Regions from separate parts of the Homo sapiens genome. Here region 2 is linked to region 1. The links come from fine-mapping of genetic effects on gene expression. Tissue or cell type: whole blood. Region 1 holds a variant in brackets; the other region holds the start of a gene. All regions are shown on one strand. Distances are between the middles of the regions.

What was found. PIP is the estimated chance that this variant, and not a neighbour inherited with it, causes the effect.
Region 2: GPX1 starts here. The variant in region 1 is fine-mapped to the expression of GPX1 in whole blood (TOPMed, PIP above 0.99).

The regions. Positions count from the first base shown.
Region 1 is chr3:48,470,807-48,478,308 of GRCh38, reverse strand. All of the region lies in intron 3 of SHISA5 (shisa family member 5), which reads left to right. Among named protein-coding and RNA genes, the nearest start is that of TREX1, 8.3 kb to the right of the region's middle. RefSeq lists enhancers at 3,179-4,038, 4,758-4,867, 5,008-5,627, 4,900-5,759. The variant T/A (reference allele first, on the strand shown) is at 3,193.
Region 2 is chr3:49,355,211-49,360,974 of GRCh38, reverse strand. GPX1 (glutathione peroxidase 1) reads left to right here and starts at 2,622. Exons shown (of 2, transcript NM_000581.4): 1 at 2,622-2,948; 2 at 3,228-3,799. The coding sequence starts at 2,697. The coding sequence ends at 3,587. It overlaps RHOA (ras homolog family member A), which reads left to right. Exons shown (of 5, transcript NM_001664.4): 5 at 593-1,830. The coding sequence ends at 766. RefSeq lists enhancers at 1,729-2,337, 2,100-2,429, 2,338-2,946 and a silencer at 2,590-2,649.

The sequences.
Region 1 (7,502 bases):
CTCACTGGCTACAGCAGAATCAGGGCAGGGCTCCTGTGCGTGGAGGAGGGGAAGAAGTGCAGCTGTGCCCCTCCTCAACACCTCAGGGCTGGTTGGAGCCTGAGATCTCTACAGGCCTTCCCCTCCACGTCCAGGAGCCCAGGAGCGGCTGTCCTGCCCTGAGGCCCAGGATTGTGGGCTTTCAGATGGCCCCGTGGGAGATGCCTATGCCCAGCCTGTGTGGGCCTGGAGGCAGTCAAGGAGTGGGCCTCGTCCTGAGGACAGTGGGCATCACAGAGGGTTCTGGGAGCGCTGGGGACCGAATGGAGTTTTAGGAAGACCACACTGGCTGCTCTGTGGAAGATGGAAAGAGCAGATGGGGTGGGTGTGGGAGGTGGGAAGTCGTTTCTGTAGGAGGTGGCCTCAGGCGGCTTCCTGGCCAGAGGCGCTGGAGGCCAGAGAGAGCCAGAGAGAGCCAGAGCTTGGTGGCAAGAGGTGAGGATGGAGACTTACATTCAGCAGCTCCCACAAGGCAGGGTGTGGAGGGAGTGGGAAGGAGCAGGGGCTGGACACTGGAGGAGGGCAGGCTTGTGGTGAAGTGCGCTGTGGAATGGAGATTTCACACCACGGAGTCCATGGCACCCTGGGCAAGAGCGAGGCAGTGGAGCAGATTGAAGAGCAGTTGGAAATTGTATGCTGGTCGCAGGCAACTCCTTGGAGAGTTTTAGCCGTGAATGGATGAGGAGTAAGACAGGCATTGAAGCTGGGCACAGTGCCACACTTCTGTAGTCCCAGCTACTTGGGAGGCTGAGGCAGGAGGATCGCTGTAGGCCGGGAGTTCAGGGCTACAGTGAGGTATGATCCTGCCTGGGAATAATCCCTGCACTCCAGCCTGGGCGACCCCGTGTTTTTTGTTTTTTGTTTTTAAAAGGGAGGCCGGGCGTGGTGGCTAATGCTTATAATCCCAGCACTTTGGGAGGCTGAGGTGGACAGATCACCTGAGGCCAGGAGTTCAAGACCAGCCTGGCCAACATGGTGAAACCCTGTCTCTACTAAAAATAACAAAAATTAGCTGGGCGTGTTGGCGGGTGCCTGTAATTCCAGCTACTCTGTAGGCTGAGGCAGGAGAATCACTTGAACCCAGGAGGCAGAGGTTGCAACAACAAAAAAAAGGAGTTGGAGAATCCATGTGAAGGGTTGTTCTGTTTCTTTTTTTTTTTTTTTTCTCAATGTTATAGATTTGAGCTGGGACAACAAGGAGGAGACAGTGCGGAACAAGCTCCCAGAGGGGCATAGGAGGAGGAGTGGCTTCCTGGGGTTGTGGCAGCAGGGAGGTGACTGGGGCCAGCTCAGAGGCACCTCTGACTCCCCAAGGTGTGCATGTGGGACCTGTTCTGTTAGCCCAGCTGCCGCCGTGGTGTGCATAGCACTGGGCCTCGTGTGCCGTGTGCTTGGCGTGCCCTGCTGCCTCCTGCCCCAGGCTATTTTGCCCATGCATCGAGAAGAGCAGGTGACTGGAGTGATGCTCCCCCTCCCGCGCCTCATGTCATCTCTTGTCCTCTGCTTTGTTCTGAGCCCCAGCTCATGCCTAGGACCTGCTTTATAAAGGTGCAGGAGCCAAAGAAGTGGGTGCTGGGAGGAGGGGAGGGGGACAGGGTCATCAATGACTCCTCTCTTTTGAACTCTCTCAGGTGGCTGCCTGTCTGGGTCCCAAGGAGACATCCTCTGCTGGGCATCCATGTGCTGCCTACTTGGCCAAGGGCACTGTTTGTCCACTGGAGAGTTGGCTCCATGTTGAGGGCCTGGCCCCTGCTGTCGAGGCCATGGCCAGGAGCTCAGGAGAAGCCAGGCAGGGGAAAGACCCCAGGCCAGGAGCCCCACCCCAGCTCTGCCCCACTCTCTGCCACTGACCCCTCCTCCTCTCCTTATTTTGGGACCCTTGCCTCTGGCTATCTCCCTCTGGGCTACTTTTTTTTTTTTTTTTTTTTGAGATGGAGTTTCTCTCCTGTTGCCCAGGCTGGAGTGCAGTGGCACAATCTCTGCTCACTGCAACCTCCGCCTCCTGGGTTCAAGCAATTCTCCTGCCTCAGCTTCCTGAGTAGCTGGGATTACAGGTGCCGGCCACCATGCCCGGCTAATTTTTGTATTTTTAGTAGAGATGGGGTTTCACCATGTTGGCCAGACTGGTCTCGAGCTCCTGACCTTGTGATCTGCCCGCCTCAGCCTCCCAAAATGCTGGGATTACAGGCTGAGCCACTGTGCCCGACCTGGGCTACTTTTTGAGTTCCCTAGGCATGAGGCAGCAGGCTGGAGCCTGGATCCAGATGGGCCCACATCTGCCTGGCCCAGAACCCCTGCCGCAGGAGGATGCCACCCATGGCAGGGGTTATAGTGTGGCCCTATTTGTGGGCTCAGGGTTGGCCCAGGTCTTCTGCCCCCTAGACTTTGGCAAGTGAATCTCTGTTTAATGGTGAGTGGCTCCAGCCATTCTTGCCTTATTCACTCCCCAGATAGTCTCCTGGTTGTTTTGGATCCTACTGTCATGTCCTCTTCCCAGCTCCTTGCACTCACAGGACTGTCGGGCAAGACTGTTGGGTTTCTAAGTACCGAATGGCAGAAGCTCTGGCTGCAGACCCCAAGGAGGCCACCACTGACCCTCTGCTGTGACTCCACTGCCACAGTGCAGGGGAAAGGGAGAGAGGCCCATTAGGCGAGGTGTGGCCACAGCCCCGGTGCTACCTCCCAGCCCTCAAAGCGTCCTTTCTGTGGTTCTCAGGCCCTCAAGCCTGTCTGGGGCCTTGCTGACACCAGGGTGGGGGTGCGGGTATCCCAGGTCCAGAGCCAGCCTGTTCACTGTCTAAGGTTTGGAGTCTTCCATTTCTTGGAGGCCGCCGAGTTCTCCCCAGACCCTACAATCCTGCCCAAACTCCCTGCCGGGGTGGCTGCCCCTCTGCCTTCTGCTCCCTCCTGCTTGGGCCGACTCTGCCTTTTGAGCTTGGCCCCAGCCTTGGGAGACCCCATTCCTTCCTCTCGGAGGCGTAGTTCCATTGGTACTGTAGCCACGTGTGGCCTTGTACCCTAGCCCCGCTCTGCAACCACCCCTTGAATGTTGCTTGGTTTTCTAAGGTCACCGTGCCTGGGTGGGGTCTCTGAGTGAATTTATTCATTTACCTGTCCAATATTTATTGATTAATTCACAACATTATGCAAAAA[T/A]TTTTTTTTTATTGAGCACTCACTATATGCTAGGCACTGGAAATATAGTGGTGGCCGAAAGCTGTATTGGATGATAATGGTACAAAGCAGGGGCAAGACGTAGTTGATCAAATGCTCACACACAACAGAGTGTGTGTTTATGAACTGAAGTAGAAAGGAATTTAATTCCGTGCGGGCATGTGCTGAGGGGCCTGGCCTCTTCTGCATGGTGGGGAGGGTGCTCCTGGGGAAGTGACCTGAGGCCTGAGGGGTGAGCAGGAATGAGTTAGGTGTGGCTGAGATGAAAGGAGGAAAGGGCTGAGCTGGCAGGAGTATCTGCATGTGCAAAGGCCTTGAGCAGGACACAGCATGGTGCTTTCAAAGCTGAAAGGAGGGGGATGGGACTCAGCACAGAGGTTGAAGGAGAGGGGGCAGTTCCAGACCACACATGGCTTTGTGGGCCTAATAGGGAGTTTTATTTTATTTAAAATTTTAATTAAAGGCCAGGCACGGTGGCTCAGGCCTGTAATCCCAGCACTTTGGGAGGCCAAGGTGGGCAGATCACCTGAGGTCGGGAGTTCGAGACCAGCCTGGCCAACGTGGTGAAACCCCATCTCTACTAAAAATACACAAATTAGCCAGGTGTGGTGGCACGCACCTGTAGTCCCAGCTTCTCGGGAGGCTGAGGCACGAGAATCACTTGAACCCGGGGAGGCGGAGGCTGCAGTGGGCTGAGATTGCACCATTGCACTCCAGCCTGGGTGACAGAGAAAGACTCTGTCTCAAAAAAAAAAAAATTAAATTAAAAAATAAAATTTTAATTAAAGATTAAAAATTAGCCTGGGCAACACAGTGAGACCCTGTCTCTACAAAAAATAAAAAAATAGCCGAGTGTGGTGGTGCATGCCTGTGGTTCCAGCTACTTGGGGGACTGAGGTGGGAGGATCACTTGAGCCTGGGAGTTTGAGGCTGCAGTGAGCTGTGATCGTGCCACTGCACTCCAGCCTGGGCAACAGAGTGAGACCCTGCCTCAAAAAAATAATAATAATAAAATTTCCTTTATTGTAAATTTCACTGTCTGGTGAGACAAATCCCAGATTTTTCTTTTCTTCCTCTTCTTTTTTTTTTTTTTTTTGAGACAGATTCTCACTCAGTCTCCCAGGCTGGAGAAAGCCTCCTGAGTAGCTGGGATTACAGGTGCGTGCCACCAAGCCTGGCTAATTTTTGTATTTTTTGGTAGGTAAAGAAGGAGTTTTGCCATGTTGCCCAGGCTGGTCTCGAACTCCTGGGCTCAAGCTTCCCAAAAGCCTCGGCCTCCCAAAGTGCTGGGATTGCAGGTGTGAGCCACTGCACATGGCCTCTTTTCTTCTTTTATTGTCAACTATAATACATACACAGGAAAGCACAGACACACTCAGTTTAACATGTAATTATAAAGCAAATTCCTTTGTAATCGCAAGAGCTACAGGAGCCATAGCTGGCGTTTGAGCAGGTGGTGACATGATGGACCTTGCATGGTGGCCCCAGTAGGGTGGCCGGGAGAACATGGGGAGACAGATTGGAGAGAGTGCTGGTGGGAGAGGAGGAGCTAAAGGGACAGGCTGGACTTTGCTCCTTGCATGTGTGTCAGCCAGGGCCCCAGGGTCGCCCTCTGGGCCTAGATGGATGCAGAAGCTCCTCCTGGAGGCTGGTGGAACAGGGCCGGTGGGTTAGGTGGAAGTGGGGGTGGGGGTGCTGCTGAGCTAGAGTGTGGTTGGGGCCCACTGAGGCTGGGGTGGCTCTTAGACCCCCTAGTGGCCAGGCTGCATTCTGAGGTCAGGCCCTGTAGGCTTGGCTCAGGGAGGCAGCTCTGGGAGGCAAATGGGGCACCTCTGCTTCCCCTCCTCCCCGGCCCCCGCCCCTTGGCTCCTTGGCTGCTAGCCGGCTGCTGGGCGGGGCCATCCTGTGTCTTTAAGAGGGTGGAACGGGGCTTCGCGTCTGTGCTTCCTGTGGCTGACGTCATCTGGAGGAGATTTGCTTTCTTTTTCTCCAAAAGGGGAGGAAATTGAAACTGAGTGGCCCACGATGGGAAGAGGGGAAAGCCCAGGGGTACAGGAGGCCTCTGGGTGAAGGCAGAGGCTAACATGGGGTGAGCTTGGGCGCCATGCTGCGTGTGTGTTTGAGAGACAAACACTGAGAGATCTCTGGAGGGATGATAACGGCCTTGCGGTCGCATGTCATTGATGGCGTGTGAATGTGTGTGCGTTTCTCCATTCCTGCCTCTGGTTGGGCCGGAAGACACCTGTAGTCTGCTGGTCCTGTTTTAGGGCCTTGTCCTGGACGGCCTGGGGCTGATGGCTCCTGCTTTGAGAGTCCTGAGGGGTGCTTTTGAGCCTGGAGTCTTTAGCTCTGTCCCTGGGCTGTGCTGTGGGGCCCTGCTGAAGTTGTGCAGTCCCAGGGCGGGGTAGGGTGGGACCCACACCCTCCTTGGGCCTCTGTTGGGCAGAGGCTGCTGGGGGATGCCCTACAGCTAACAAAGCTCCTAGAGTTTTTGGATGTGTTTGATGCAGTTACCAAGCATTTGCCTTTTGTTGGAATAAAGCTTGGGTTGGGCATGGTGGCTGACACCTTTTAAAAAAAACTTATTATTTTTTATTTTTTTGGAGACAGAGTCTCGCTCTGTCACCCAGGCAGGAGTGCAGTGGCGCGATCTCTGCTCACTGCAACCTCCGCCTCATGGGTTCACGTGATTCTTCTGCCTCAGCCTCCCCAGTAGCTGGGACCACAGGCACGTGCCACCACGCCCGGCTAATTCTTTTTTTTTTTGTATTTTAGTAGAGATGGGGTTTCACTATGTTGCCCAGGCTGGTCTCAAATTCCTGACCTCAGGCGATCCGCCTGCCTCGGCCTCCCAAAGTGTTAGGATTACAGGCATGAACCACTGCGCCTGGCCTATTTATTTTATTTTTTAATTTTTTGAGACGGAGTCTCCCACTGTTGCTCAGGCTGGAGTGCAGTGGCACAATCTTAGCTCACTGCAACCTCCCTCCTTGGTTCAAGCGATTCTCCTGCCTCAGCCTCCTGAGTAGCTGGGACTACAGTTTTGCGCCACTACGCCCTGCTAATTTTTGTATTTTTAGTAGAGACAGGGTTTTACCATGTTAGCCAGGGTAGTCTAGAACTCCTGACCTCAAGCGATCCGCCCACTTCGGCCTCTAGAAGTGTTGCCACCGCGCCTGGCCAGTTTTTTATTTTTATTTTTTATTTATTTACTTTTTTGAGATGGAGTTTCGCTTTTGTTGCCTAGGCTGGAGTGCAATGGTGTGATCTTGGCTCACTGCAATCTCTGCCTCCTTGGGTTCAAGAGATTCTCCTGCCTTAGCCTCCCAAGTAGCTGGGATTGCAAGCACCCACCATCATGTCCGGCTAATTTTTTTTATACTTTCTCGAATTCCAGACCTCAGGTGATCCACCTGCCTCGGCCTCCCAAAGTACTGGGATTACAGGTGTGAGCCACCGCACCCAACCGTTTTTTATTTTTTAAAATCTTTTATCATCCAGTACAAAATGTAAGGCTGACTTTTTTTTTTTTTTTTTTTTTTTTGAGACAGAGTCTCACTCTGTCCCCCAGGCTGGAGTGCAGTGGTGCGATCTTGGCTCACTACAACCTCCACCTCCTGGGTTCAAGCGATTCTCCTGCCTCAGCCTCCTGAGTAGTTGGGACTACCGGCTAATTTTTAGTAGAGACGGGGTTTCACCATGTTGACCAAGCTGGTCTCAAACTGCTAACCTTGTGATCCGCCCATCTCGGCCTCCCAAAGTGCTGGGATTACAGGCATGAGCCACCGCACCCTGGCCACGAGACAGTTTTAATCTCAGCACTTTGAGAGGCCGAGGAGGGAAGATTGCTTGAGGCCAGGAGTTGGAAACCAGTTAGGTAACATAGTGAGACCCCTGTCTCTGCAAAAATAAATGTGGTAGTGCATGCCTGTGGTTCCAGCTACTGGGGAGGCTGAGGTGGGAGAATCACTTGAGCCTGGGAGGTGGAGGCTGCAGTGAACTGTGATCATATCACTGCACTCCAGCCTGGGCAACAGAGTGAGACCCTGTCTCAAAAAATAAATTAAAAAAGAAAAAGAATGAAGCTTGGCCTCTGCAAACACGGCAGGGTGGCTAGTAAGGGGCTCTGTCTGCATTTGGAAGTCAGGTTTTTTTTTTTTTCTTTCATTTTTGAGACAGAGTTTTGCTCCTGTCCCCAGGCTGGAGTGCAATGGCGTGATCTTGGCTGAATGCAACCTCTGCCTCTCGGGTTCAAGCGATTCTCCTGCCTCAGCCTCCCAAGTAGCTGGGAT
Region 2 (5,764 bases), 880 kb before region 1:
CAGCCTCCTGAGTAGCTGGGGTTACAGGCGCCCACTACCACACCCAGGTGATTTTTTGTATTTTAGTAAAGAGGGGTTTCACCATGTTGGCCAGGATGGTCTTGATCTCCTAAACTCGTGATCCGCCCAGCTCAGCCTCCCAAAGTGCTGGGATTACAGGTGTGAGCCACCACACCCAGCCAAGTTTAACAGCTTTTGAAAGTCTTTTTTTTTTTTAGGCTGGGTACAGTGGCTCATGCCTGTATCCCAGCACTTTGGGAGGCCGAGGTGGGCAGATCACTTGGTCAGGAGTTCGAGACCAGCCTGGCCAAAATGGTGAAACCCCATCTCTACTAAAAAATTACTTGGGCGTGGTGGTGGGCACCTGTAGTCCCAGCTACTCGGGAGGCTGAGGCGGGAGAATCCCTTGAACCCAGGAGGTGGAGGTTGCAGTCAGCTGAGATCATGCCATTGCCCTCCAGCCTGGGCGACCGACGAGCAAAACTGTCTCAAAAAAAGAAAAAAAAATCTTTTAGATGAATTTGAATACTTTTTACTTACTATATGTATGCCACACTATTAGCTAAAAGGACTATTTTTTTTTCTTTGCTAGGAGCCGGTGAAACCTGAAGAAGGCAGAGATATGGCAAACAGGATTGGCGCTTTTGGGTACATGGAGTGTTCAGCAAAGACCAAAGATGGAGTGAGAGAGGTTTTTGAAATGGCTACGAGAGCTGCTCTGCAAGCTAGACGTGGGAAGAAAAAATCTGGGTGCCTTGTCTTGTGAAACCTTGCTGCAAGCACAGCCCTTATGCGGTTAATTTTGAAGTGCTGTTTATTAATCTTAGTGTATGATTACTGGCCTTTTTCATTTATCTATAATTTACCTAAGATTACAAATCAGAAGTCATCTTGCTACCAGTATTTAGAAGCCAACTATGATTATTAACGATGTCCAACCCGTCTGGCCCACCAGGGTCCTTTTGACACTGCTCTAACAGCCCTCCTCTGCACTCCCACCTGACACACCAGGCGCTAATTCAAGGAATTTCTTAACTTCTTGCTTCTTTCTAGAAAGAGAAACAGTTGGTAACTTTTGTGAATTAGGCTGTAACTACTTTATAACTAACATGTCCTGCCTATTATCTGTCAGCTGCAAGGTACTCTGGTGAGTCACCACTTCAGGGCTTTACTCCGTAACAGATTTTGTTGGCATAGCTCTGGGGTGGGCAGTTTTTTGAAAATGGGCTCAACCAGAAAAGCCCAAGTTCATGCAGCTGTGGCAGAGTTACAGTTCTGTGGTTTCATGTTAGTTACCTTATAGTTACTGTGTAATTAGTGCCACTTAATGTATGTTACCAAAAATAAATATATCTACCCCAGACTAGATGTAGTATTTTTTGTATAATTGGATTTCCTAATACTGTCATCCTCAAAGAAAGTGTATTGGTTTTTTAAAAAAGAAAGTGTATTTGGAAATAAAGTCAGATGGAAAATTCATTTTTTAAATTCCCGTTTTGTCACTTTTTCTGATAAAAGATGGCCATATTACCCCTTTTCGGCCCCATGTATCTCAGTACCCCATGGAGCTGGGCTAAGTAAATAGGAATTGGTTTCACGCCTGAGGCAATTAGACACTTTGGAAGATGGCATAACCTGTCTCACCTGGACTTAAGCATCTGGCTCTAATTCACAGTGCTCTTTTCTCCTCACTGTATCCAGGTTCCCTCCCAGAGGAGCCACCAGTTCTCATGGGTGGCACTCAGTCTCTCTTCTCTCCAGCTGACTAAACTTTTTTTCTGTACCAGTTAATTTTTCCAACTACTAATAGAATAAAGGCAGTTTTCTAAACTTCCTGTATCCTGTTGTTTGTGTTGCTCTCTCCAGGGCTGGGGGTAGGAGGATGCAAGGACTTCCTGGCCTAGCTCACCCTGGAGAGGTTTGTTGAGTGCAAAGGACTAGCTTGTGCCCCACCTCCCACCCACCCAGCAGCTAATCTGGTCCCTCCCAACAACATGGAAATGATTACCCTGTACCGCATTCTGGTTCAGATTTGGGGGTAGGGTGAATGCAGCCTGAGGAGGCCAGGGAGGGAGGACTCCGGCAGCGTTTCCTTGGCCTCGGCGAGCTACTGGGCTCCACTTAAGGAGGCTGGGGCAGAGCTTCCAGGACTCTGCCCGGTTAGAAAACCCGCACGAGGGCGGTGCCGCTTTGGAGACAGGGAGGAGGGAGACCGGAAGCCTAGATCCCTCTGGCTGTCCCCTGCACTGCCGGTAACATGGCACAGGAGAGGAGGGCTGTTTGTGCACGGGCAGCTCCTGCAGCTGCTGCCGTCGCCCACCAGCCTCCTATGCCAAACCCCACATCCTAACTCAGGAACCTCTGAGAAAAAACGGAGCCCTCGAGGGCCCCAGCCCTTGGAAGGGTAACCTGGACCGCTGCCGCCTGGTTGCCTGGGCCAGACCAGACATGCCTGCTGCTCCTTCCGGCTTAGGAGGAGCACGCGTCCCGCTCGGGCGCACTCTCCAGCCTTTTCCTGGCTGAGGAGGGGCCGAGCCCTCCGGGTAGGGCGGGGGCCGGATGAGGCGGGACCCTCAGGCCCGGAAAACTGCCTGTGCCACGTGACCCGCCGCCGGCCAGTTAAAAGGAGGCGCCTGCTGGCCTCCCCTTACAGTGCTTGTTCGGGGCGCTCCGCTGGCTTCTTGGACAATTGCGCCATGTGTGCTGCTCGGCTAGCGGCGGCGGCGGCGGCGGCCCAGTCGGTGTATGCCTTCTCGGCGCGCCCGCTGGCCGGCGGGGAGCCTGTGAGCCTGGGCTCCCTGCGGGGCAAGGTACTACTTATCGAGAATGTGGCGTCCCTCTGAGGCACCACGGTCCGGGACTACACCCAGATGAACGAGCTGCAGCGGCGCCTCGGACCCCGGGGCCTGGTGGTGCTCGGCTTCCCGTGCAACCAGTTTGGGCATCAGGTGCGCCGGGCGGAGCGGGGCGGGGCGGGGGCGGACGTGCAGTAGTGGCTGGGGGCGCCGGCGGTGTGCTGGTGGGTGCCGTCGGCTCCATGCGCGGAGAGTCTGGCTACTCTCTCGTTTCCTTTCTGTTGCTCGTAGCTGCTGAAATTCCTCTCCGCCCTTGGGATTGCGCATGGAGGGCAAAATCCCGGTGACTCATAGAAAATCTCCCTTGTTTGTGGTTAGAACGTTTCTCTCCTCCTCTTGACCCCGGGTTCTAGCTGCCCTTCTCTCCTGTAGGAGAACGCCAAGAACGAAGAGATTCTGAATTCCCTCAAGTACGTCCGGCCTGGTGGTGGGTTCGAGCCCAACTTCATGCTCTTCGAGAAGTGCGAGGTGAACGGTGCGGGGGCGCACCCTCTCTTCGCCTTCCTGCGGGAGGCCCTGCCAGCTCCCAGCGACGACGCCACCGCGCTTATGACCGACCCCAAGCTCATCACCTGGTCTCCGGTGTGTCGCAACGATGTTGCCTGGAACTTTGAGAAGTTCCTGGTGGGCCCTGACGGTGTGCCCCTACGCAGGTACAGCCGCCGCTTCCAGACCATTGACATCGAGCCTGACATCGAAGCCCTGCTGTCTCAAGGGCCCAGCTGTGCCTAGGGCGCCCCTCCTACCCCGGCTGCTTGGCAGTTGCAGTGCTGCTGTCTCGGGGGGGTTTTCATCTATGAGGGTGTTTCCTCTAAACCTACGAGGGAGGAACACCTGATCTTACAGAAAATACCACCTCGAGATGGGTGCTGGTCCTGTTGATCCCAGTCTCTGCCAGACCAAGGCGAGTTTCCCCACTAATAAAGTGCCGGGTGTCAGCAGAACTGTGTGTATGTCCTGTGTCATTGTCATTTGGGAATTCTTTTTCTTTTCTTTTTTTTTTTTTTTTTTTGAGACGGAGTTTTTTGCTCTATTGCCCAGGCTGGAGTGCAGTGGCGCAATCTAGGCTCACTGCAAGCTCCGCCTCCCGGGTTCACGCCATTCTCCTGCCTCAACCTCCTGAGTAGCTGGGACTACAGGTGCCTGCCACCACGCCCGGCTAATTTTTTGTATTTTTAGTAGAGACAGGGTTTCACCGTGTTAGCCAGGATGGTATCGATCTCCTGACCTCGTGATCCACCCGCCTCGGCCTCCCAAAGTGCTGGGATTACAGGTATGAGCCACCGCACCCGGCCTGGCGATACTTTTTCTAACCTCATTGTCATAGTGGTGGGAACTTAATCCTCCTTCCCTTATCCTAGCCAAGTCTGAACTTTCTGTCCTTTTGTCTGCAGCGTGTAGGATCCACTCTTTCCTTTGTGGGAAGTCTGGCTCCTGGCCTGCATTTCTGCCTTCACCAGAACATGCAAAGGGCCATCTCAAGACCCAGTTACAACAAAGTCCTTACTTCAAAAAAGACACAAGGCAATGGTTGACTGCCTAACTCAAATGATAGACTTCTGACTACTTGCTGCACGCTGAAATGACTGTCACAAAATAACATGAGCCCCCACTCACATTTGGAGTCATGGCCTCTCCAATTGTTAGGTCCACACAATCCCATTTTACACGGAAGCTCATGCAATGTTATAAATTCTGTTATCTGGCTAGATCTTTCCATGTTGCTACCAAGTGCCTGTATCTGCTGTGACGATGATCTTACAAGTTTCTGCCTCATATATTCAAGAGTGAGAAAACTATAATTTAACTGGCCCTTCTGACTATGCCCTGCCCAACACTTAACGTGCAATTAATTGCACATTCAGGCCCAGGATAAGGGCTTGTCTTTGAAGCCAGCTGCTGCTTCTCGGGCACCACTCAGGTCCAGCCTCTCCATCTGTTGACCCTGCTGCCAATAATCTTTAATTTTTTTTTTTTTTTTTTTTTTTTTGAGACAGTCTTGCTCTGTTGCGCAGGCTGGAGTGCAGTGGTGTAATCTCGGCTCACTGCAAGCTCCGCCTCCCGGGTTCACGCCATTCTGCCTCAGCCTCCCGAGTAGCTGGGACTACAGGCGCCCGCCACCACGCCCGGCTAATTTTTTTCTGTTTTTTAGTAGACGGGGTTTCACCGTGTTAGCCAGGATGGTCTCGATCTCCTGACCTCGTGATCCACCCGCCTTGGCCTCCCAAAGTGCTGGGATTACAGGCTTGAGCAGCAATAATCTTTCAAGACAGATTTGGAGCCATTTCCTAACGCAGTGCAGGGGACTGCAGGGCCTGGGTGTAGCTTCCGCTTGTGCAAACAGGTACCCAGAGACATGGTAGTGCTGTTCACCCGCTGACTGTGGACCAGAGGTTCTGGAGTCCCAGCATTTGTGTTCAAATTCGTGACTCAAGGTCCTTCTTAGTCTGAACCAACTCTCAAGGACTTTTCCTCTTGCCCTAAGCAGTGATCTTTGCTGCTGCTTTCCCCCTTTGTCTGCCCTTAGGTCACTAAGGATTGTAGGGCCTTCTGGACCTGCTCTGGCTCCATCCTGAGAACTCCTGAACAGGCCCACCTCCCTCTGGTTCTCTCTGCCCCAGCCTTTGAGTCCCCCTTGGGGTGACCCAGGTAGAACTATCAGCTTCCCCTTTGGACCTCACTCTACTTGTGTTGTTCCTTGGAACTCTCAGGAGTCTCACTCTTGCCCAGGCTGGGGTGCAGTGGCATGATCTCAGCTCACTGCAGCCTCCACCTCCCAAGTTTAAGCGATTCTCCTGCCTCAGCCTCCCCAGTGGCTGGGATTACAGGTGCCTACCACCATGCCTGGCTACTTTTTAATATTTTTAGTAGAGATGGGATTTCGCCATGTTGGCCAGGCTGGTCTCAAA